7 linked regions of the Homo sapiens genome follow. The protein of the gene in region 1 purifies or fractionates together with the protein of each later gene. This does not show direct contact. Each region holds a gene or a part of one and is shown on either strand. Other genes may lie near its edges.

Evidence for each region.
Region 2: the proteins of DERL2 (region 1) and SRP54 purify together in Homo sapiens (affinity purification with western blotting; one study listed by BioGRID). This does not show direct contact.
Region 3: the proteins of DERL2 (region 1) and AARSD1 purify together in Homo sapiens (affinity purification with mass spectrometry, with the first as the bait; one large-scale study listed by BioGRID). This does not show direct contact.
Region 4: the proteins of DERL2 (region 1) and HERPUD1 purify together in Homo sapiens (affinity purification with western blotting, with the first as the bait; one study listed by BioGRID). This does not show direct contact.
Region 5: the proteins of DERL2 (region 1) and NCAPG purify together in Homo sapiens (affinity purification with mass spectrometry; one large-scale study listed by BioGRID and IntAct). This does not show direct contact.
Region 6: the proteins of DERL2 (region 1) and CYRIB purify together in Homo sapiens (affinity purification with mass spectrometry; one large-scale study listed by BioGRID and IntAct). This does not show direct contact.
Region 7: the proteins of DERL2 (region 1) and POR purify together in Homo sapiens (affinity purification with mass spectrometry; one large-scale study listed by BioGRID and IntAct). This does not show direct contact.

Annotation. Positions count from the first base shown.
Region 1 is NC_000017.11:5,476,179-5,479,678, reverse strand, and holds part of DERL2 (derlin-2), read left to right. Parts: intron 1-1,679; coding exon of another isoform or gene 1,680-1,722; exon of another isoform or gene 1,723-1,830; intron 1,831-3,500.
Region 2 is NC_000014.9:35,017,492-35,020,991, forward strand, and holds part of SRP54 (signal recognition particle subunit SRP54), read left to right. Parts: intron 1-1,200; coding exon 1,201-1,274; intron 1,275-1,474; coding exon 1,475-1,583; intron 1,584-3,500. UniProt on the Homo sapiens protein: Component of the signal recognition particle (SRP) complex, a ribonucleoprotein complex that mediates the cotranslational targeting of secretory and membrane proteins to the endoplasmic reticulum (ER).
Region 3 is NC_000017.11:42,950,026-42,952,240, forward strand, and holds the end of AARSD1 (alanyl-tRNA editing protein Aarsd1), read right to left. Parts: intron 1,870-2,215; coding exon 1,775-1,869; intron 704-1,774; coding exon 568-703; 3' UTR 501-567; downstream 1-500. Other genes in the region: PTGES3L-AARSD1 protein, read right to left, coding at 568-703, 1,775-1,869. UniProt on the Homo sapiens protein: Functions in trans to edit the amino acid moiety from incorrectly charged tRNA(Ala).
Region 4 is NC_000016.10:56,930,723-56,934,941, reverse strand, and holds the start of HERPUD1 (homocysteine-responsive endoplasmic reticulum-resident ubiquitin-like domain member 1 protein), read right to left. Parts: upstream 2,801-4,219; 5' UTR 2,698-2,800; coding exon 2,551-2,697; exon of another isoform or gene 1,648-2,550; coding exon of another isoform or gene 1,627-1,647; intron 1-1,626. UniProt on the Homo sapiens protein: Component of the endoplasmic reticulum quality control (ERQC) system also called ER-associated degradation (ERAD) involved in ubiquitin-dependent degradation of misfolded endoplasmic reticulum proteins.
Region 5 is NC_000004.12:17,820,979-17,824,478, reverse strand, and holds part of NCAPG (condensin complex subunit 3), read right to left. Parts: intron 1,497-3,500; coding exon 1,356-1,496; intron 833-1,355; coding exon 709-832; intron 1-708. UniProt on the Homo sapiens protein: Regulatory subunit of the condensin complex, a complex required for conversion of interphase chromatin into mitotic-like condense chromosomes.
Region 6 is NC_000008.11:129,839,093-129,842,326, forward strand, and holds the end of CYRIB (CYFIP-related Rac1 interactor B), read right to left. Parts: intron 3,114-3,234; coding exon 3,050-3,113; 3' UTR 501-3,049; downstream 1-500. UniProt on the Homo sapiens protein: Negatively regulates RAC1 signaling and RAC1-driven cytoskeletal remodeling. Regulates chemotaxis, cell migration and epithelial polarization by controlling the polarity, plasticity, duration and extent of protrusions.
Region 7 is NC_000007.14:75,921,655-75,925,154, reverse strand, and holds part of POR (NADPH--cytochrome P450 reductase), read right to left. Parts: intron 3,054-3,500; exon of another isoform or gene 2,955-3,053; intron 1-2,954. UniProt on the Homo sapiens protein: This enzyme is required for electron transfer from NADP to cytochrome P450 in microsomes. It can also provide electron transfer to heme oxygenase and cytochrome B5.

The sequences.
Region 1 (3,500 bases):
GCCAAGCAGGTGGTTGAGATAAGCAGTGAAGCAGAGTGGAAATAGCTTTGGACTGGAAACCAGGTGTAGCTGTCCCACTGACCAGCCATAGAGCAAGTCCTTTCTTTTTTGCACTTCAGTTTCCTGAGATAGAACTTTGATTTCTTTCTTTCTTTTTTTTTTTTTTTTTTTTTTTTTTTTTTACATGGAGTCTCACTCTGTTACCTAGGCTGGAGTGCAGTAGAACTTTGATTTATGAGACCTCTTTCTACTCTGGAATTTGGTATCCTTGGGAGATGCCATATTAAAAAGGGCTCAATTGAGAAGTAAAATGTGAGTTTTTGTTATAAAATGTTTGTTGTAGAATAGTAAGCAAAAAAGAAGAAAGTGAAATTGTCCACTATCCCGACACTTGGGTATAGCAGTGGCCACCATTGTTAACTTTTCAATGTGTATTCTTCAGTCTTTGTGTACTTTTTAAAAAACGCTGAGCCAGGCAAGGCTGCATACACTATGATTGCGCCTGTGAACAGCCACTGCTCTTCTTGGGCTAGGCCTTTAACATAGCCACTGCATTCCAGCCTGGACAACATAACACATTCCTGTAATCCCAGCACTTTGAGAGGTGAAGGCAGACGGATCACTTGAACTCAGGAGTTTGACACCAGCCTGGGCAACATGGCAAAACCCCATCTCTACAAAAAATCCCAAAATCAGCTGCATATGGTGGCATGTACTTGTAATCCCAGCTACTCGAGAGGTTGAGGTGGAAGGATTGCTTGAGCCCAGAGGGTTGAGACTGCAGTGAGCCGAGATCGCACCACTGCACTTCGGGCTGGGGGACAGAGTGGCACCCTGTCTCAAAAAACAATTTTTGTAACCTTGTAAACTTAGTATGCCATAATTGTTTTTTCCACCCTGAAGTGTTATAAAATTATAACAGGTGATATTCCATGGTATGGATATGGTGTAATTATACTAATCCCTTGTTGATGGACATTGACGTTAGTGCTTGGTTTTCTCTTCTGTAATTGGAGTGGTGAATGTCCTTGTAGCTAAATCTCTGCACACATCCATGATTATTTTCAAAAGATAATTCCTAGAAGTAGAATTCCTATTTTGTTGCCAAACGCCTTCCAGAATGGATGTTCAGGTTTACATTTCAACTAGCATTTATAACTGTTCATTTCCCCACATCCTAATCAAACAAGGAAGGCATTTTATTTACCCTTTCCTAGTTGAATAGTTGTAGGATGATGTCTCATTGTTTATGATTTTTAAAAAATGTTTTGAAACAATTTCAGTCCTACAAGAAATTACATATGCAGTACAGGTCTCACTCCATTGCCCAGGCTGGAGTGCAGTGGTATGATCATAGCACACTGTTAACTCAAGCCCCTGGGCTCAAGTGATCCTCCCACCTCAGCCTCCTGAGTAGCTGGGACTACAGGTGCACACCACCAAGCTCTGCTTATTTTCTTTCTTAAATGTTTTTTTTTGTGGAGACAAGGTCTCTCTATGTTGCCCAGGCTAGTCTCGAACTCCAGTCCTCAGGTGATCCTCTTGTCTCTTGGCCTCCCAAAGCACTGAGATTACAGGTGTGAGCCACTACACCCCACTTTTTATTTTTTTATTTTTTTGCAATTGTTTTCTGGCACAACAAGATATACCAGGCTCATCCTGTGCTCTCCTTGATCCAGTCCTAGAATCAGCTGTTTCTTCAAGGAGCCCTGGTTCCTTTAAAGTGGAGAATGGTATTTAGAAGCCAAGATCTGGGTGCTAGATGTGCTCATTGCTATTGGAGTGTTGCTATTCCCAGATCCTCTCAGTGAACAGAGCAATGGAATTATATGTATGTATGTATGATAATGTATACATGTGTATATTTTTAGATCTATGTATTTTTTAAAACATGGGTTTATACTATACTCCCATTTCTAGTACTACCTCATGGTTCATTCTAGCTTTTTTCCTATTGGTTTCCTCCAATATTTTATTATGAAAATTAACAAACTTATAGGAAATCAGAAAAAAATTGGAGTGAGCTTCATGTAGCCACCACATAGATTCTGTAATTAATAGTTCCCTATTCTTATTGCACACCTATCCCTACATCTAGCTTTCCAATCCAAAATGTATGTGCCATTATATGTATACTTAATTCCTTGTATACTTGAGTGTGCATATCAGTAACTAGAGTTTAGTATTTATGTGCAACAAAATACACAAATCTTGAGTGTGTCAACTGAGTTTTTATAAATGCACACATCTGTGTATCTATCAAGACAGAAAATTACCATCAACCAGAAAGTTCCCTGATGTCCTTCCCTGTCAATCATTGTACCTGTCCCCCAAGAAGCAATTGCTATTCTGGTTTTGTTCCTCTGTAGATTAGTTTTTCATGTTCTACAACTTCATGAGTAGAATTGTACAGTATGCATGTACTCTTTGGTATAAGGCTTCTTTCATTCAACATAATGTTTTTGAGACTCATCTGTGTTCTTGTATTTATTGGTAATTTGTTCCTTTTTATTGCTGAATATTATTTGGTTGTATGAATGTACCACTCCTTTCCATCTGCCCTTTCCATCTGTCCTAACCTGATTCTTATTATGATTAATGTTTTACCTACCTAATTACCCCTCATATGTAACCAGTCTTTCGGGATAGTCTCCACCTCTCCCATATGGATGCCTTGCTTATCTCACTCACCCTCAGATTCCCCAGACCAGGCTGCCCTCTTACAGGGATGCCTCCCCATCCTACTCGGGCTAACATCTCGTCAGGCCACCTCCATGTGTGCATGGTCTGATGGGGCTCTTGACTCCCTATACCAGGCTGTGCCCCCACCCCCATCCTGCTAATGTTTGGGCAGTAGAAGGGATCTCAGTTTTGTTTTTGTTGTCGTTGCTGTTTTTTGAAACGGATTCTTGCTCTGTCACCCAGGCTTGAGTGCAGTGGCTCAATCTCGGCTCACTGCAACCTCCGCCTCCTGGGTTCAAGCGATTCTCCTGCGTCAGCCTCCCTAGTAGCTGGGATCATAGGCATGCGCCACCACACCCGGCTAATTTTGTATTTTTAGTAGAGATAGGGTTTTGCCATGTTGGTCAGGCTGGTCTTGAACTCCTGACCTCAGGTGATCCACCCTCCTCGGCCTCCCAAAGTGCTGGGATTACAGGCATGAGCCACCACACCTGCCGGGATCTCAGTTTCTAATATACTTTCCTTTGATTATTGTGAGAGCAAACATTCTCACGTTTATTGACCACATGGATTTCCTTTTTGAATTGCATATTCAGCCCTTTGCCCATTTTTTCTGTTGGTATGTTTGTTTTTATTGTTAATTTGTAAGAATTTTAAAAACTCATTTTGAATTATACTATTTTCTGACTCCAGTATAAATCAGAAGTTTTCAGATACATTTCTAATTTTATCAACTGTGGAGGATTACAAGTAGAAATATAAGTGCAAATTGAGGATGCTGCTTTAATGGTTCCTTCTTTAGTGAGGTTTTGAATTAC
Region 2 (3,500 bases), on another chromosome or scaffold:
TAATCCTCTCTTCCACTGTTTAATTCTGCGTTTCTAGTTGACTGCTATAACATTTCTTTTAAGATACTGTACTGCCACTTCACATTCAGAATGCCTGAACCAAATACCTTTTCTCTTTTTATCTTTAGGACATAAATAGAAAATACTTTCTCTTTTGGCTTGTTCCATCCCTGTTTTTAAACCTTAGGTTAGTATACATACAATGAAATGCTCAAATCCTAAGGATACCTTTCTTTTTTTGACAAATGCACAGTAACCCACACCCAATCAAGAAACAGAACATTTCCATTACTCTAAAAGGTTTGCTTGTGCCCTTTCCCGGTAATACTTCATATTATAGAAGTCCTGGGCTGTGCATGGTGGCTCACACTGTAATCCTAGTGCTTTAGGAGGCCAAGGTGGGAGGATCATTTGAGGTCAGGAGTTTGAGACCAGCCTGGGCAATGTAGTGAGACCCATATCTCTTAGAAAAATCCAGTGGCATGCATCCATAGTCATAACTACTCTGGAGACTGAGGCAGGCGGTCACTTGAGCTCAAGAGTTTGAGGCTACCAGTGTGTGATGACTGTACCACTTCAATCCAGTCTCAGTGATAGAGCACAACCCTCTTAAAAAAATAAAGAAATTCTGAGTATATCGTTTTTCTTCCAATCTGTTTTCTTTGACTAAGCATATTTTGATATTAATTCATGTAGTTGTACTTATCTATAGTTTGTTCTTTTTATTGCTGAATAATATTTTTTCCACAGTGTATCCATTTTCCTGTTCATAGATACCTAAGCTATTTAAGAAACTCCAAACAATCTTCTAAAGTGTCTTGCTATTCTATATTCTCACCAATATATGGGAGTTCTTTGTGGTCCACATCCACTTTAACTTTTGATATTGTCAACCTTTAAAATTTTACTCATCCTAGTAGGTGTAGTTTATGTGCCTTGTTTTCAGGTTTCTTGTGTGTTTGTATATGTGTCTTCTCAGATAGAATGTAAGCTTCTCTATGATAGGACCTGTCTTTGTCTATGTATTCTCCCCAGCATTCATCCTGTCATCTTGCACATGGTAACTGCTTGGTGAATATTTATTGATGTATATTTTATAAATATGCTTCAAGATGAATTCATGATTAAGGAATAAATTAGTTTTGTTGAATGGAAATGTACATACTTTAATATATCCGAATTATTTACATTGTATTTCAGGTCAGTTTACGTTGCGAGACATGTATGAGCAATTTCAAAATATCATGAAAATGGGCCCCTTCAGTCAGATCTTGGTTAGTTATCCTTAAAACTTTATACCTTCTTTTGTTTTCATTAAATTTTCTAAAATAGATACACTTGCTTTAATTATTTTTACATTCGGGTAAAAATATATCTAAGACTTAGTGTCAATATTAAACCTAATAGTTAAATGTGGACATTTTGAACCATTAATCTTAAGCTACTATTGACTTTATGTTTAAATCTGTTGTAGGGGATGATCCCTGGTTTTGGGACAGATTTTATGAGCAAAGGAAATGAACAGGAGTCAATGGCAAGGCTAAAGAAATTAATGACAATAATGGATAGTATGAATGATCAAGGTAAGATGGCAGATTATTTTCCTCAGGCAAAAATGTTCTGAGTATCAGTAAGATGAGAGTTTCACTGTATTCTTGTGGACAAGATGGGGAGAAATTTAGCCTGAAAGATTATTTTTAGGTAGATTTGTAATAGCTTGAAAGCTCTTACTCAAAGGGTTATGATTATTGGATTGCCTTCATCGTTGAGAGAAATGTCTAGTATAATACTTCTCCAAATGAGTTACAAGGAAAGAACACTAGTTCTTCATGATGTTCATAGAGTTAACTTAAAAGGAGAACTCTGAGTCAAATGTGGTGGAATGCTAGTTTTTAAAGAGTTAAATTTGGCTGGGTGAGGTGGCTCACACCTGTAATCCTAGCACTTTGGCAGGCCAAGGTGGGAAGATTACTTGAGGCCAGGAGTTTAAGACCAACCTGGCCAAACGTAGCAAGACCCTGCCTCTATGAAAAAAAATTATTTACTGAAAGTCTCTTCACGGAGCTTTAATATTGCTAACATACATTGGGAAACTAAGAAATGGATAGCTTAAGCAATGCTTAGAAAATTCTTTCTGTCTGAAACATAAGAATTCAGTTTTCTCAGTATACTGCTCTGTTCCCCTGACCCTATAAAGGCATGCCTCAGAGATACTGTGGGTTTGGTTCTAGACCACTGCAGTAAAGGAAATATCATGCAATAAAGTCAGTCATACAGATTGTTTTGGTTTTCCAGTGTATATAAAAGTTATGTTTACAAATACATATACTGTAGTCTATTAAGTGTGCAAGAGCATTATATCTAAAAAACAATGTATATACCTTAATTTAAAAATAGTTGATTGTTGGCCGGGCGCAGTGGCTCACGACGCCTGTAATCCCAGCACTTTGGGAGGCTGAGGCGGGCGGATCACCTGAGGTCAGGAGTTTGACACCAGCCTGGCTAACATGGTAAAACCCCGTTTCTACTAAAAATACAAAAAAATTAGCCGGGCGTGGTGGCACACACCTGTAATCCCAGCTACTTGGGAGGCTGAGGCAGGAGAATCGCTTGAACCCGGGAGGCGGAGGTTGCAGTGAGCCGAGATTGTGTCATTGCACTCCAGCCTGGGCGACAGAGTGAGACTCTGTCTCAAAAGAAAAAAATAAAAAAATATAGTTTATTGCTAAAAATGCTAATGATCATCTAAGCCTTCAGTGCATTATAATCTTTTTGCTGGTGGAGGGCCTTAGCTTGATGTTGATGACTGCTAACTGATTACAGTGATGGTTGCCAAAGGTCAAGGTGGCTGTGACAATTTCTTAAAACACAAGAATGAAATTTGCCCCATTGATTGACTCTTCTTTTCACAAAAGATTTCTCTGTAGTATTCGATGCTGTTCGATAGCATTTTACCCACAGTAGAACGTCTTCCAAAATTGGAGTCAGTTCTGTCAAACCCTGCTGCTGCTGCTTTATCAACTAAGTTTATGTAATATTCTAACAATTTGAACAATTTTTCATATCTGTGCTTTATCTACTATCTGATTTATTGTTATTTTTTTGTAGTCTCTTTTTCCTGAGCTCCAGGTTTTCATAGTAGCCCAAATAAGACTGTCTTTTTCTTTTAAGGTTGTTTTTTTTCCTCACTGTCTTTAACACTGCAAAAATGTTTGCATGTAGAATTCATAATTGCAGCATATCTAAAGTATCCATTCTGTGCCAGGCACTGTCCTGAGCACTTTAAATATATTAATTCATTTTATCATCATAACAACTCCTATGGCATATTCAGTTATTATCTGCCTTTTTCAAATTAGGAAACTGGGATACAGGGAAGTTGAGTAATTTGCCCAGTATAGAACCTTTCCTGACTTCCTTCCTTCTTTGAATTAACGCCCCTTCCTCTATTTGCTTAACTCTGTCGTATTACTTGCCACGATGTGCTGCTATTAGTTTAT
Region 3 (2,215 bases), about 37 Mb from region 1:
TCGCACCACCGCACTCCAGCCTGGTGACAGAGCGAGACTCCATCTCAAACAAAAACAAAAAACAAAAACAAAAAAATCAGCCAGGCATGGTGGCACACACCTGTAATCCTGGCTACTCTGGAGGCTGAGGCAGGAAAATCCCTTCAACCCGGGAGGCAGAGGTTGCAGTGAGCTGAGATCACACCACTATATCCAGCCTGGGCAACAAAGCAAGAGTCCATCTCAGGGGGTGGGGCGGTAGGGGCGGGAAAAAGCCATGTGCCTTTGTGGATTATAACAAAATTATGGGAGCAGTGGACTCAGCTGATCAGATGTTCATTTCTTATCCAACTGAGTGCAAAAGCACAAGGTTTGGTATAAATTAATCCACCACCTTCTAAACATTACAGTGCATGAACTAAATTAGAAAATTATCTATTTATAAACGGAAAGTAACCACACAAGCACAATGGAGTATACAGTACGAATTAGTCATATAAATACAAGTGGTAGCGCAACCATTCTGAGTCAATCTATTTTATTGACCAAAAGATTCCTGTGGAAACAGGAGGTGAGTGCCCTAAGCCCTCACTCCTTAGCACTCTGCGTGCTGATGTAGTCCTGGAGAAGCGCCTGCGCCTCCATCCGCCGGCTCATCTTGGTGGCCTTGCCCTGAAAACGGCCTTTCTTCCCTGCTCCTTTGCCTTCCAGGACCTCAGCCACCCTGGGGAACAGAGGTATAGTCAGGGAGACTTTGAGGGAAAAGTCACAAAAAAAAACAAGGGCAGCTCTGAGTCTTTTTCCAGGGACTGGGAGAGGGATAAGAAGAGTAGATGACTTCTAGGAATCTTTCTTGAAAACACTTGCACATAGGCTGGGCATGGTGGCTCACACCTGTAATCCCAGCACTTTGGGAGGCCAAAGTGGGTGGATCACCTGAGGTCAGGACTTCAAGACCAGCCTGACCAATAGGATGAAACCCCGTCTCTACTAAAAATAAAAAAATCAGCCGGGCATGGTGGTATGCGCCATAATCCCAGCTACTCAGGAAGCTGAGACAGGAGAATTGCTTGAACCCGGGAGGCAGAGGTTGCAGTGAGCCGAGATGGTGCCATTGCACTCCAGCCTGGGCAACAAGAGTGAAACTTTGTCTCAAAAAAACACTTGCACATATGCACAAAGATATATGTACCATCATCACATAAGAGTGAATAACTGGAAACAACATCAGTGTCTATGAATTGGGCTAGATAAATTATGTTAATCTCCAGAGAGCAGGGTGAGCACCTGTAATCCCAGCACTTTGGGAGGGCAAGGCAGGTGGATCACTTGAGGTCAGGAGTTCGAGACCAGCCTGGCCAACATGGTGAAACCCTATCTGTACTAAAAATACAAAAAATTGGACGGGTATGGTTATGTGCACCTGTAATCCCAGCTACTTGAGTGGCTGAGGCAGGAAAATTGCTTAAACCTGGGAGGTGGTGGCTGCAGTGAGCTGAGTAGCCTGGGCTCTCCAGGCTGGGCAACAGACTAAGACTCCATCTCAAAAAACAAAAACAAACACATTTCATAAAAACAAAAACAAAAACATACATGTGAGATGTGGAGCCAAAAGACCTTCAACTGTCAAACTGGAAATGACAGTAGTAATAATTATCTCTGCTCAGCCCACCTCACATGCCCATGATGTGAATTAAATGAGATCGCAGATGTGATGGTCCTTTGACTCAGTAAAGGAATGTATTTGTAGGATACAGGCTCTACTACATGTGCAAGAGAGTCCACAAAGAATTACCTGGGCCCCAGGGTCTCCACAGACGCAGGTGGCCCTGCCAGTAAGAAGAGTCCACCACCTTTCTCATCGCCCACAGTTAAGAACAGGAGGGTCTCCTAGGAGGTAAGACAAGGAGATAAGCTCTGATACTGAAGGATGTAGAGTCAACCCCCCAAATCCTGCACTCTCTTCAATCTTAAGAATAGATTATTTCCCCCTAAACCACCAAGTGACGCTCCTGATGAATGATGATACAGCCCCTCCACACTGGCCCACGAGGGCCAAGAAACTTTTTGAGAGCAACTATGGGAACTTAGGTGAAACATTAAGAAGGCAGCAGAAGACTGCTGATCCTGGCTAAGCAGAAAATGCCTTTCATGGTTTCACTCTTGCAAACTTTTCCCCACCACACATCCTTTCCCTGCCACTGCCTAAACCACCAGGTTTCCCTCTGCCTGGCCG
Region 4 (4,219 bases), on another chromosome or scaffold:
TCAGGGGTTCGAGACCAGCCTGGCCAACATGGTGAAACCCCATCTCTACTAAAAATGCAAAAATTAGCTGGGCGTGGTGGCTTGTGCCTGTAACCCAAACTACTCAGGAGGCTGAGGCAGGGGAATCGCTTGAACCAGGGAGGCAGAGGTTGCAGTGAGCCAAGATCATGTCACTGCACTCCAGCCTGGGCGACAGAGTGAGACCCTATCTCAAAAAAAAAAAAAAAAAAAAAAAAAAAGAATGGCAAATTATCTCCAGTCCAAACTTAACTCCCAGGTAAACTGACTGACTCCTATTACTAAAAGCAACAAACAGCAAACAGGGAACCTACAACCAAATTGAGTTTGGTTTCAGAGAAAACTCAGAGAACTCCCAAGGCCAGCCTTAACCAAAATCACCCAGCAGTGCCCCAAAATAATATGAAGCTATTCTAAACTGAAGCCTTCACAGACAATTTCCTGGCATACAAATGCAGTTATAGAGGAGATGGCGTGTGGGTGACATTATACACAACCACCCTGTGAGATTTAGTATCCCTATTTTAAGGGAGGAAAGTCTGAAAAACTGACTTGTCCAAGGTCATCTGCTGCCACAGTGTCACAATTCCAACCCCTCTTCTCCTCCATATCAGTGATTTTAACACCATAGGGACTGCACACTCTTTTATACAAATCTCATTTTTAAAATCTATTTGAAACTCCGTCTAAATTGTACTTAAAAATAATGGCCTCAAATAATATTAACATATAATCTGTCTATTGGAGATCACTAACGTGTTAATCTACTCTTGCCAGAATAACTGATTATGCGAAACCTGGAATAAAGGTGTTCCTGCCAAGTAGCTTGAGATAATTAAAGCAAGCTGTTTAAACAAACAAAACAGCAAAAAGTGCATCTACTTATCCATATACATCAGAACTTTTTGACACTGTGTAACTAAACCAAAATAAATATACTGAATGCTGTGTTCACCGTTTTTCTGACGGATGAGAACTTTAAAGGTAAATGCTAATACATACGTGAATTTGGAAAACAGTACCTTTTGTATATGTAGGGTCCTGCATTTATTACAGAGTTCAACCAATAGAAAAGGCCGGAAAACCACAGCTGCCAGTGGTTTTGAATTATTTTCCCCCTTTTAAAGGCCTAACTTGATATTGAGTCTTCACACAGATGGCTGATTTGAAAAATATTAAGTAAAGCAAACAACTATTACAAAGTAGGCCTTCTCATATTATGCCATTTTCTACTACAGAAAACAAATGATAAGTATGTTTCAGCCATAATAATTTTTAGACACAAATTTGTATACCTGAGAGGTATTTGTTTACAATGTTAGGTCTTCAGACTGAACAGATGGGAGCGGCATTCCTCATCAAAGGAAGACCTTAAAAATCCTCCGCCAAAATCCTGCCTTTTGCCATATGATGCAACCATAGGCTACACCTGCTTCACCAATTTGTGTACCCAATAGTCATTCTCATGGCAACACAGCCACCCAGTTTCTTGGAAGCAGCTATGGTGAAACTGAAAAATGTGCCAGGGTGAATTCTAGAGGACATGGAATGCAAGCTTACTAAATAAATATGCAAATTTCAAAATAACAACTCAGAAGGAAAACTCACTTCTAAAACATTCTTGACCATATGAAACAAAAACAGACACAGGCGCTACCACAAGCTGGAACTCACGACTTCACTATCTTTTCCTGCCCGGATGCCCTCTCCTGTGTGATGAAGAATTATGCTCGTGGGCAGTGAAGAACACTGCTGACACTTACATAATATCAGAGCAGAAAGTAAATACAGGAAGGGCCAGCTTACAGCCTCATCACGTGGTGGCCAGGGCAGGCGGTGCTAAGGGTGATGTTGACAGATGTGTCAACCAAAACAAAGCAAGGAAGTCTTGCTAATAATGGAGAGGCTGCCGTCCTAAAACCAGACTGAAGGCGACTCCTGCCTGCTTCCCTTCTCAGTCGCTCTTGGTCAGAAAGTGCACGGGGCTCCACCCCGGGACTCGGCAATGGCTGCTCGGTCCAGTGCGACAGGGAGGGGCACGGCGGAAGGTGGCCAGGGAGGAGAAGAGCCACGTCCTGCTTCTGGGTGTGGGGCCTTCCGTCCACAGTGTCTGGGCGGTCCCCAGGTTTCTCAAGCCACGGCCCCGGGTGGCACCTGCCCGCTCCTCTCCCTGCAGAGAGGCTGCGTTCAGAAACCTCATTTTGCAGCACGGATGTTTTCTTACTTCTAGCCATTGGATGCAAGCCCAATTAGGAACACCGAGTTGCCTGGCCGCTGGGGGAGAAACAGGCTTGGAGGGTGAAATGACTCGCCCAAGGTCAGGCTGCTGATTACTGACGGCTACTGGGCAACAGAGGGGCGCCCGCGTCGGCGGGGCAGGGAAGGGGAGACCACAGCCCTGGGGGAGGTGACCGGCCGAGCGATCGCAGCCGTCAGCGGGAGGAGGCCACAGGACAGGGCAGCCGGACGTGGCATCCCCAGCAGAGGGCGGGGGGCCACAGCCTAGGGGCGGGAAGTCGGGGCCGCTCTCACCGGACGCTCGGGGTAGACGCGGCTCAGGTGGGCCTTGAGGTGGCCCACACTCCAGCCGCGGTCGCCACTCAGCTCCAAGTCGCGGTGGCGCTGGTTGGGGCTCTTCACCAGGAGCGTGACGGGCTCGGGTTCGGTCTCGGACTCCATGGCGGCGGCGGCGGTGTCGGGGCTCCGCTGCGCTCCTAGGTGCCAGGCAGGCGGCGTCTCAGCCGCCCGCAATCTCTGCAACGACAGTTCACGTCTCTGGGGCGCGCGCCCCCGCTTCGGGCGCCTTTTATAGAAGCCCCGCGCCCGGCTCTGCGGACAGAACGCTCTGTGGCTGCCGCCCATTGGCTGAGGCGGAGGCACTCTCCCAACGTGGCCCAATCGGCGTCCGGATCCGGGTGGCAGAGGGCGGACCGAGCACGTGGGCACGGGCTGATGCAACCCGCCGCGTCTGCGTCACCCAGAGGCGCGGCTGTGCCCCGGGAACCCGGGTTCGGTGGCCATGTTTGGGTGCGCTGCAGGCCGCGCGGGGAGCTTGGTCTGAGACCTGCGAGGCCCCCAGCTCGGGTGGCTGAGGGCGCCCGAGGCAGGGGGTGGGGAGTGGGGTATCCTAGCAGACCCCAGTTTAGCAGTCTCTGCAAATTCTTTCCTCACAAAGCCGCACCCCCACCCTTTTTCACCCCAGGTGTCAGTGCCCACTTCCCCTTTTCCTGCCTCTGTGGCCCCACGTGGAAACCTACGGGGAAGCCCGTCCTACAGGGGAAGCCTACCCACTCGAACCCTCAAAGAACGGCTGGGCGACCCCGAGTGCAAGCCCACCTAGGAGAACTCCACGTGCTCCTAAGAAAGACAACGAAGGAGCAAGGCCAGATTTTCCTTGGGCTGGGAGGATGGAGGCATCCAGGCAGCTGTTGCCAATTTCCCTGGGCCTCAGACTTGAACGTTTGGGACATCACCCTAATGATGATTGACAAGTCAGCCACAGTCCTGCTCACACTGGAGTCCCCCTCAAAACGCGTCACTTTATAAGATACTCACACATGCACCCGTTAAATTGGGGCTGAGACGAGGAGGGCGGGGTTCTCCGATTCCTGAAGTGGGACCATAAAGGCCTCTTTATTGTAGGCGTTCCCTCCTCCTCCTCTGTAGGAAAAAAAAAAAAAAAAAAAAAGGCTTGAAAAACAAAACTGACATTGCCCCGGCTCCCTCCTTGTTCCAACCCCCTTGGGACATCTGTTTTTTCAGGTGTTGTCAGGAGCTTGTCAAGGTCAGGAAGGTAACAGGAGGAGCCTGGTCTGGTTGGTGGGTATATTCATCTGCTGCAGCTGCCATAACAAAGTGCCACAAACTGGATGGCTTAAGACGGGGTCCCCAACCCCCCTGGGCCACGGACCACTATGAGTCCCTGGCCTATTAGGAACCAGGCGGCACCGCAGGAGGTGAGCCACCAGCGAAGCTTCATCTGTATTTACAGCTGCTCCCTATCGCTGCATTACCACCTGAGCTCAGCCTCCTGTTAGATCAGGGGGCATTAGATCCTCACAGGAGCCGAACCCTATTGTGAACTGTGCACGCAAGGGAACTAGGCTGTGCTCCTTACGAGAATCGAATGCCTGATGATGGGAGGTGGAGCTGAGTTGCTGATGCTAGTGCTGAGAGTGGCTGCAAATACGGATTAACATTA
Region 5 (3,500 bases), on another chromosome or scaffold:
GCTGCCTCCCAAATGAAAGTATTTAAGCAGATGCTGAATAACAACTAAGCATGTTGTAGAAGGGGTGTATATATAAGGAGAGGATGGAAGAGATGATCTGTGAATTAACCTGCAACTGAAATTATGTGATTTTTATGAAATAAATGATACAGATCTGTCTTTTTTGGCTATGCCAGAAAAAAATAACACTGAAATAGTATTATAGTAAACAATTATTTCTGTATTTATCAAGCAATACAGAACAATACCTTTATGAACAATACCTCATTGAAAAATGAAAGGTAGATTTCATTGCTATTCTTATTTGCAGACAAGTAAAACAGCAGAATAACTTGTCCAAAGCCACAAAGCCAGAAAGTGTCAGATGAGATTCTAAACCCTAGTATGTACAATTTGAGTAAGCTCTCAAAAACACTAGCACCCAGTGCCTCATGGACAAAACCATATCCCCACTTGTAACTTCCTACCAAACCTGCTCCATTTCAAACTGATTCAACAATAACAGGTACACTAAGAGGAAGAAGGTGACATTTTTCAAATATTCTGTGTATGTAAGAGATAGATAATGGTTTTAAGAAATTTTAAAACTCATTAAAGAGACGAACCTAAAACAAAACAGACAAAACAAAAAGTTCTAAACAGAAAATAAGACAGTATTCAATGTCATTGACCAAAACCTCTTTATCAACAATGAGGAAAATTACTTACAATTTGTGTTCTCTTATTATCATCTATAATGATGTGGAGTAGTCTTTCAACAAGAAAAGAAACCAGGGATATTGGGATTGTGGGTAAAATAAGAATCTCCTGTAAAACAGCCAGCAGTTTTTTTCTGCAGTCAAAAAGAACTAATTTAAATATTATTATGACAAAACATGTTTTATCTCTAACATTCACCTACTCTGCAAACTTAATTACATTTGCCTCAGTTCTTTCACTTAGGTTTATCACTATAATAGGTACAAAAATCTGTATGTACAGACTTTAGGTCAAATATTCTTATTCCACACAAAAAAAAATTTTTATAAAACACCCTATGATTTTTAATAAATCAACATGATAAAATGACAAAATACCAGAAATGATTAAACCTTTTAGAAAATGCTACTAGCCTTAATAAATCTAAACAGAAACTTTTAACCAAAAACTGCAATTTCATTGATTTATTCTGAGGAAATTGAACTAGAAATATAAATGTATGTGTATATATGGAAATATGTAGAAGGGAAAAGAAAACTTTTTATACCACTTTAGAGAGCTAGGGTAAATATGTTTAGTTATATTGTAAAAGGACTATATTTCAATATAAGAAATTAGAAGGGCAAATTAGAATGAGTGTTAACATTTAGACATACCTTCCTCCTTCTTCACTGGTATCCAAAGACTTAATAATTAGAATCAATTGTTGACCTATGAATTCTTTTGTCATCAAATTTCCAATATAGGAAAAATCACCTCTGTGTTCTTCATTAACAACTGGAATGCTCTGGATGTAACTAAAACAAGCAGAATTAATAAAGTAGAATCTTTTAAGAAACATCAAACAAGAGTTGATTCCCACCATTAGGTCAGAAAAGGGCCATTTTCAGGTCATATTCGTCTAAATACATATCTATGCCATGTAATTTGGTCTACAAACTCAATTCTATGCCACTGTCATTAACTTTTGCAAACAAACTTATTGATGAATCAAAAGAATTTGAAAATGTATTTTCAATAATGACTCAAATTTTCTATGGGAAATTTTCAAAAGGTACATATTTATGTCTAACTGATAACTAATTATTTCAATGTCACTAGCATTCTCCCAATTACAGATGGTCCCCAATTACAGGTGGCCCAACTTACAATTTTTCAACTTTAGGATGAGTTTATCTGAGAATTAAACTCATTTGACTTATGACATAGCCCCACTTTAAGTCAAGAAGCATCTATCAAGTTCTGAATCCCTTACCCAAAAATCCAATTAGTCATAAAGATCTAATCTTCAGCCGGGCACAGTGGCTCACACCTGTAATCCCAACACTTTGGGAGGCCGAGGCAGGTGCACCACAAGGTCAGGAGTTCGAGACCAGCCTGGCCAAGATGGTGAAAACCTGTCTCTACTAAAAGTACAAAAAAATTAGCCAGGCATGGTGGCTACTGTAATCCCAGCTACTCAGGAGGCTGAGGCAGAAGAATTGCTTGAATCCAGGAGGCAGGGGTTGCAGTGAGCCGAGATCGCACCACTGCACTCTAGCCTGGGTGACAGAGAAAAACTCCATCTCAAAAAAAAAAAAAAAAAAAAAGATTTAATCTTCATCATGCCTAATTATCATTCTTTTATTTTTAAAAATTGTAACAATAGTTACACAAGTAATCCATGAATACAATTATCTTTTTTGAAAAAAATCAGAAAAATAGAAACAATTTCACAAATTTTTATTATTCTTTCTTAGAAACCCTACTAATCTCTGTATACACCACCACCATCAGCTACCTTTTATTTTAACTTTTTATTCTTACTACAGACATCACCACCCAAACTAAAGCCCTTTATAATCCTCACCAAGAAGGCTGTATATTCAGTAGCCTCTGCTTTTTGTGTGGAATAAAAAAAGCTACTTAAAAGCAGAACTAAGAATTGAAGCTTAGACAGCGAAGTGCCTTTAAGATGGAAGTAACATGAAAAACAATCCTGATCAAAAATGTCATTTAAAAAATGTCAAAAATGTCGCCGGGCACAGTGGCTCACACCTGTAATCCCAACCACTTCGGGGGGTTGAGGCGGGAGGATCACTTGACATCAGGAGTTCAAGAAGAGCCTAACCAACATGGTAAAACCCCATCTCTACTAAAAATATAAAAACCAGCCAAATGTGGTGGCAGGCACCTATAATCCCAGCTACTCAGGAGGCTGAGGCAGGAGAATTGCTTGAACCTGGGAGGCAGAGGCTGCAGTAAGCCAAGATCACGCTACTGCACTCCAGCCTGGGCAACAAAGCAAGACTACGTCTCTTAAAAAAAAAAAAAAAAAAAAAAGGCGGGGGTGACAAAAACCAAGTTACAGAAATTGTGGTATAATGTATAATGAGTATACTCTCATGTATTACAAAGTGATGACCAAGAGTAAATAAAAGCTCATAAATTTCTGGCCACAAGATTAGGACTTTTAAGACATCAGCCACCCTTTGGGTTCTAGTAGGAAACTAAGGAAAACTACACTACCGATAACTATCAAAATCAACCAATCAGTAGAGTTACTCTTTTCTGACAGGCTAAAAGAAAACCTTCATTTATACTCATCTTTGTATCTCTCCCCACTTCTCCAGCCCAGCTTTAGCAAAATGCACAGCATCTTGACTGAGTTTTTTTTTTTAAGTAAATTCAAACAGTTGTTTAATTAATAGATTAAAAATCCTCAACTGCATAAATACAACTTAAAACTGACCCACCAATTTTAGTTACCATGAAATCCTAACCATTTATAAAGACATTTATTATAATGAAGAGACCACTCA
Region 6 (3,234 bases), on another chromosome or scaffold:
CACCTTCTCCCATGATTGTGAGGCCTCCCCAGCCACATGGAACTGTAAGTCAATTAAACCTCTCTTTCATAAATTGCCCAGTATTGGGGTATTTATTAGTAGTGTGCAAATGGACTAATACACTGGCTAAGTCCATGCCTACCCCCCATAATACTTCACTCCAAGGACAGACATGAGAACTACAGATAGAGTTGGCAGAGAAGATGCCTGCTTGCTCTCTTTGGCTATCTGACTGGCAAGTACTAGCTCTGAGGTTGAATCATCTTTTGGCAGCAGAGCTGTCTCCTTTGATCACACTGCAGCCCTCAGCTTCAATCACACTAGGTTCTCAGATAAACCTACTCTTGGATCTAGTGGAAGGAGAGGAAAATTCTTTCTGGAAAGGGCCAGATAGTAAATATATTTTAGCTTTTGAGGGCCATATGGTCTTTGTCACAACTCAATTCTGCTGCTGTCATGCAAAAGTCTCGATAAATAATGTGTCAACAAATGAGTGAGGCTTAGGTTCCAATAAAATTTTATTTATGAACACTAAAATTTGAATTTCATATGCTTTTCTCATGCCACAAAATATTATTCTTTTGATTGTATTCAACCTTTTTAAAAACCATTTTTAGCTCACAAGCTGTACAAAAACAGACGGTGAGTAAATTGGCCCACAGACCGGTTTGCTAGCCCCTGGGCTTAAGAGATCTGTCCACTTACTCCTCAACATGCAGAGTGTGAACTGTGTGAACTGCATAGGCCACAGCAATCTTACTGCATCCATTCCCGCTGCATCATTATTTTTGATTTGTATTCATTCAGTCCACCGAAGCATTCACTTGGCACCTCTCCAAATCTGGGTACTGTGCAAGATCCTTCCTTGGGACACTGAAGGAAAATCAGACACGGCCCTTCTCTCAAGTTCGCAGACTCTCCGGTATCCAGATACTACGGCTCTCATAGTATCAGAAAACACAGCCACAAGCGCAGGTAAGTATCAGAGGTGTTTTACGAGATACATGTATCAGATTCTTAAGGCTGCTGTACCAAAATACCACAAACTGCATGGCTTAAAACAACAGAAATTTATTCCCTCACAATCCTGGAGGCCAGATGTCTGAAATCAAGATATTGGTAGGGTTGGTTCCTTCTCGAGACTCTGAGGGAGAATCTGTGACATGCCTGTTTTCCTAGCTTCTAGTGACTTCCTCCAATTCTTAGGGTTCTTTGGCTCATAGATGCATTGCTCTAATCTCTGCCTCCATCTTCCCATGGCCTTCAGCTCTGTGTGTCTATTTCCCCTTCTTTTCTAAGAGCTAGTCATTGAATTTAGGGCCCACCCTACTACAGGTTGATCTCATTTCCAGGTCCTTGATTTCATCTGCAAAAACTTTTTCCAAATAATGTCACACGTGGAGATTCCCAGTGAATGTATCTCCTGGGGGCCACTATTCAGCCTATTACACTATTCTTAGAAGATGCCTAGAAGGATATGGCCAATGTTATCCAGAAGGCTTCATGAAGGAGGTAATAGAAGCTAACCCTTCAAAGATGAAAGTTGGCGTTCATTAGAGGGTCACAAGGGGAGGAAGGGAATGTCAGGTTCAGGGACCAGCCAGACCAGAGCTAAGGAAGTGACATCACATGGAACAATTTGTGAACAGCAAGCAGTAGGGCCTGGCTGCAGGACAGGGTGTGAAGTGGGGGAGCAGTGATCAGGAGGGCCAGAGAGATCAGCAGGGATGTGATCTTGAGAAGCTGTGTGTGCCATGATCTGGCCCTATTAATCCAGAAGGGTCTGATGGAAGCCTCTGTGATTCTCTTCCATGGTTAAACATTTTAATTGTATTATACCTCGGATATTCCTAAATATTTAAAACACTGGCATGGTTGAACTAGACAACCTTTAAGTAGTTTGTTCCAACCATGAGATTTAGATTTCATGATTTAGGTTTTATGATCTTAAACTGAAACCTGTTAGTTTTCTACCACTAGTGAGATCATGGCCTCTGCTTTTCTCCTGGGAAGTCCCTCTTATAATCACTCTCTTCCCATGATTAAAGGGCTACTCTGCCTTCATGTTGCTACCCGCTCCCCTGGAAATGGAGAATCAAGCAAGGATGCGGTTTTCCTTCCATTACTACATCCATACAAGAGTAAATCAAGAATAAAAGTCCAGTTAATGAAAAGATCACTGGTCTTAATATACTTAGCAAAATTTTAAAGGCAATTAAAAGTATATACATAGACAATGATCAAAATTCTAATGAAAAGACCCGGCTCTCCCCTAAAAGAAGAAAAAATCATGTAATGTATATATGCATTCCATAAAAACATACATGGGGAAAACTTCAGAAGCCTAAAAACAAAACATCAGTAAACCAAGCCACACTTAGAAAAATGAAAGCTGATTTTTATTTTATCATCAACAGCCATTCTTTAGACATGAACATGCATACGTAATATTCTACGCACACATCACAGCTTTTAACGTTAGTTAATAAAGGTTAAACACACAACATACATCCTTACAAAAAAAGTCAAAATGCAAACTTAAAACTTTAAACAAAAGTATTACTAATTTAAAAAAAGTTTGTGTTGGGTACCATTTGTACAACACAGTTAATTTAAACATTTTCATTTTGGTTGCACATGAAAAAGGCGGCAGTAGAAAATAAAGTCATTGAGGGTTTTTAAATAGCAGAATAGGCAGTTTTGCCATGCAGGAGAAGCAATATTAAATATTAGTTTCAAAAAAAATCCACATTTAAAAATATTTAGTTCAAGTCACAGAATTTTTCTCAGTAGAGACCCCAATGCAATGCATAATTAGCTGCCTTAGATGGCCCGTTTGAAAGGATGATATCCCTTCAGAGTGTAACTTTACTGATTTTGGCACAGAAAAGAAGTCTTAAGAACATGATTAAAAAAGAGGGAAGAGGAACAGAGGAAAGAAATAAAAGCAAGAATAAATGAGATAGTAATTGCAATCACTAAAAAACTGCATTCTCAGTCATTGCAGAATACTGTCTTCTGTCTACAGCAGGTGCTTATTCCAGAATTGTTATTGCAGCATGGATTTAATTTGCTTGGAGGTAGTCTCATCATTCAAATGTTTTGTTGTGTACCTAAAAAAAGAAAAGAAAAAAGATCAATTTTAGGAACTTAAAAAATAATCAGCATCGGGTTCTCTAATTATGACAGGATGGAGAATTGGTCTCAGCAAAACTCACAAAATTATGGCTTCTC
Region 7 (3,500 bases), on another chromosome or scaffold:
CTTGGCATCTAGGAAGCTCTGGGCAGAGCTGTGTGCTCAACCACAAGAGCTTCCCTGGACTGCTTTTTGACACCATCACCTCCCAGAGTCCTTTTCTCAATTACTAGGCTCTCAGCTTTCAGTTCCCCCTCTGGTTTTTGGTTTGGTTGGGGAAAGCATGGAAAGTGAAATTCAACAAACTCACAACCCAGTTGAGCTATAAAAGACCAACAGACCTTGGTTCAAAACCTAGATATGCCACCTATGCACTCTGGGATCCTGGGCACACGATTTATCACAGTCCGTCTCCGGGATGACCATGCTCACAGTGCTACGTTGGTTACATGAGACATAAACACCCAGCGCAGACACTCAACGGTTACACTCAACTCCTTTTATTTTCATTAGAATTTTCTATTATTTATTTATTTGGGGAATTTTCTATTTTTCATTTATTACTGTATATTTTGAGATGGGGGTCTCACTCTATCACCCAGGTTGGTGTGCAGTGGTCTGATCATGGCTCACTGCAGCCTCAACCTCCCTGGGCTCAGGTGATCCTCCCACCTCAGCCTCCCAAGTAGTTGGGATGACAGGTACACACCACCACACCCAGCTAATTTTTAAACACTGATGTTTAAAAACACTAATTTTTAAATAGAGATGGTGTTTTGCCATGTGGCCCAGGATGGTCTTGAATTCCTGGGCTCTAGTGATCCGTCCACCTCGGCCTCCCACAGTGCTAAGATTATAAGCATGAGCCACTGTGCCAGGCCCTAGGATTTTTAAAATAAACAAATTTATTCATGTCTTCAGCATCCAGGTAACTGATCTAGAAAGATTTAGAGTCAGAATATTCTTCTTCAATTATAAAATGATTACTGAATAAATTATCAACTACAGAAGGAACTTGAGACACAATTTTTCTTTTCTTTTTTTTTGCAGAGACAAGTGAGCATTTATTTTTGTGCCTTTCTTCCTATGTATATTTCAAGCCTTTTTCAAGGCCCCAGGAATCTCCGGATTCAATTATGTCCCCGGGCTTGGTCGACTGCTGCAGGACTCTTAGGGAGCCTTGTACAAATGCTAGAGTTACTCATTCACCAACATTAAACCCTAGGATAGAAGATGCAACAAAGCAAGACTCCTTTCTCCACAAAATGTGATTTCAGACAAGGCAGCAGCCAACGTAGAAAACGCTGGAATTTTTCCTTGGAACTGGACTGTGATGAGAGGTGCCGCCATGAACGTAAGCTACTGTCTTTTCTTTTCTTTTTTTTTTTTTTTGAGATGGAGTTTCGCTCTTGTTGCCCAGGCTGGAGGACAAAGGTCTGATCTTGGCTCACCACAACCTCCGCCTCCCGGGTTCAAGCGATTCTCCTGCCTCAGCCTCCCCAGTAGCTGGGATTACAGGCGTGTGCCACCACGCTCAGCTAATTTTTGTATTTTTAGTAGAGACGGGGTTTCTCCATGTTGGTCAGGCTGGTTTCGAACTCCCGACCTCAGGTGATCTGCCCGCCTCAGCCTCCCAAAGTGCTAGGATTATAGGCGTGAGCCACCGGGCCCGGCCAGCCACTGTCTTTCCTTTGACCCTTCCTTTACAGTTTTTGAAGATAAAGCAGGAAATAATCTTCTCTGAAGATACTTGATAAAAATTCCACCCCGCCCCCAAAAATAACACAAGCTTCCAGTTCATTGATAAAAATTTACTGTAGTTTGGCACCTGGCTCTAGTTCAGCTGGCGGATGAGCTGATTGATGCACACACCCCCAAGAAGATGGAGGTGTGCCAATCTCCTTCAGAAAGTCCACTATTTTTGGTAGCATGACAGTCCACTGAGAGGTGGAAAGGGGACAAGAACCATGAGATCTCCTGGAAATGCTTCCTTGGGAAGGCAATTTCATGAATGAGGTCTTCCAAGCAAAAGACACCAAGCTTTCCCAGGTGCTCCTCAATCACTGTGTTGTCAGAGGGATGGTCTTATTCTTGACCTTGGCTTGTCTACGTTTCAAAATGAGTTTCTGGACAGACTTCAGATTTGGAAATCCCCAGGTCACATAAGGTTACATACTATACGCTGCATTTTTAGGTTTAAGTCTTGCAATGGCTCTCCGCACCAGTAAACTCACACCATCAATCCTTTCGACGCGTACAACAAAGGCCAAGGAATGTTTATCTGGCGATTCCAAGGTGTGAGGTTTTACTTCTAGTCGTCTGAGACACACCTTGTCATGTTTCTGCCGCCAGGAATCATGTAGGAATGATTCCAGTCGTTTAAACCTGAGCTCTTTTCCTTCCCTCTGCTCCTCCTTTGCCAAAAGTGCCTACTTTGACTGGGTGGCTTTGAGGCCTTGATAAGCCTTCTGCTTTCAGGAGATTTTCTGGAGCCAAAGGGATTTTTCTTTGCTCCTGCTTTGCCATCTTTCTAGTGTTGCAGCTACTGAACATGCGCAACCCCACCACTGACACAAAATTTTATACCTGGATGGAAAACTAAAGTCCTACCAAAAGTTCCTACTGTACTTTGGAATAATCTTCAGAAGTACAGACCAGGCCAGGCGCAGTGGCTCACGCCTGTAATCCCAGCACTTCGGAAGGCCGAGGCGGGCAGACTGCTTCAGGTCAGGCATTCGAGACCAGCTGGGCAACATGGTGAAACCCCATCTGTACTAAAATTACAAAAAATTAGCCAGGCATGATGGCACACACCTATAATTCCAGCTACTCAGGAGGTTGAGGCACGAGAATTGCTTGAACCCAGGAGGCAGAGGTTGCAGTGAGCCAAGATTGCGCCACTGCACTCCAGCCTGGGCGACAGAGTGACAGGCTCTGTCTCAAAAAAAAAAAAAAAAAAAACTACAGATCAGACCCAATTTTGACATCTGAGCTCAGTCAATATGCAGGAGAAAGCTCAGCAGTAAACTTGGGGGACAGAAGCCATATTTATTCATTCATCCATTCATCCAAGTGCCTACCTTATGCCTGGCATTGTTCTATGCCCCAGCTTACACTCGCAGAAATGATAGGTTCCCTGTTCTCAACTGAATTCACCTTCTAGTCCAACCGTATTGCCACTAGGGAGGGGAGAATTAGACACCTTTTATTAAGTCACTGTTTATCCTTTATGAAAGCAGATGAAGAAGAAAACATGCAATAAGACAGTGACAGTGACCGGGCACAGTGGCTCCTGCCTATTATCCCAGCACTTTGGGAGGCTGAGCTGGGTGGACCACTTAAGGCCAGGAGTTCGAGACTGGCCTGGCCAACATGGTGAAACCCTGTCTCTACTAGAAATACAAAAATTAGCTAGGTGTGGAGGCACGTGCCTGTAGTGCCAGCTACTCGGGAGGCTGAGGCAGGAGAATCACTTGAACCTGACAGGTGGAGGTTGCAGTGAGCCAAATCGTGCCACTGCACTCCAGTCTGGGCGAAGAGAAAGGAGGGGTGACCGAAGCAGGGTTCCAAGATCAACCAGCAATGGTACCATGGACAGATCTTGGAACGTGGTAGGGAGGGGAAGA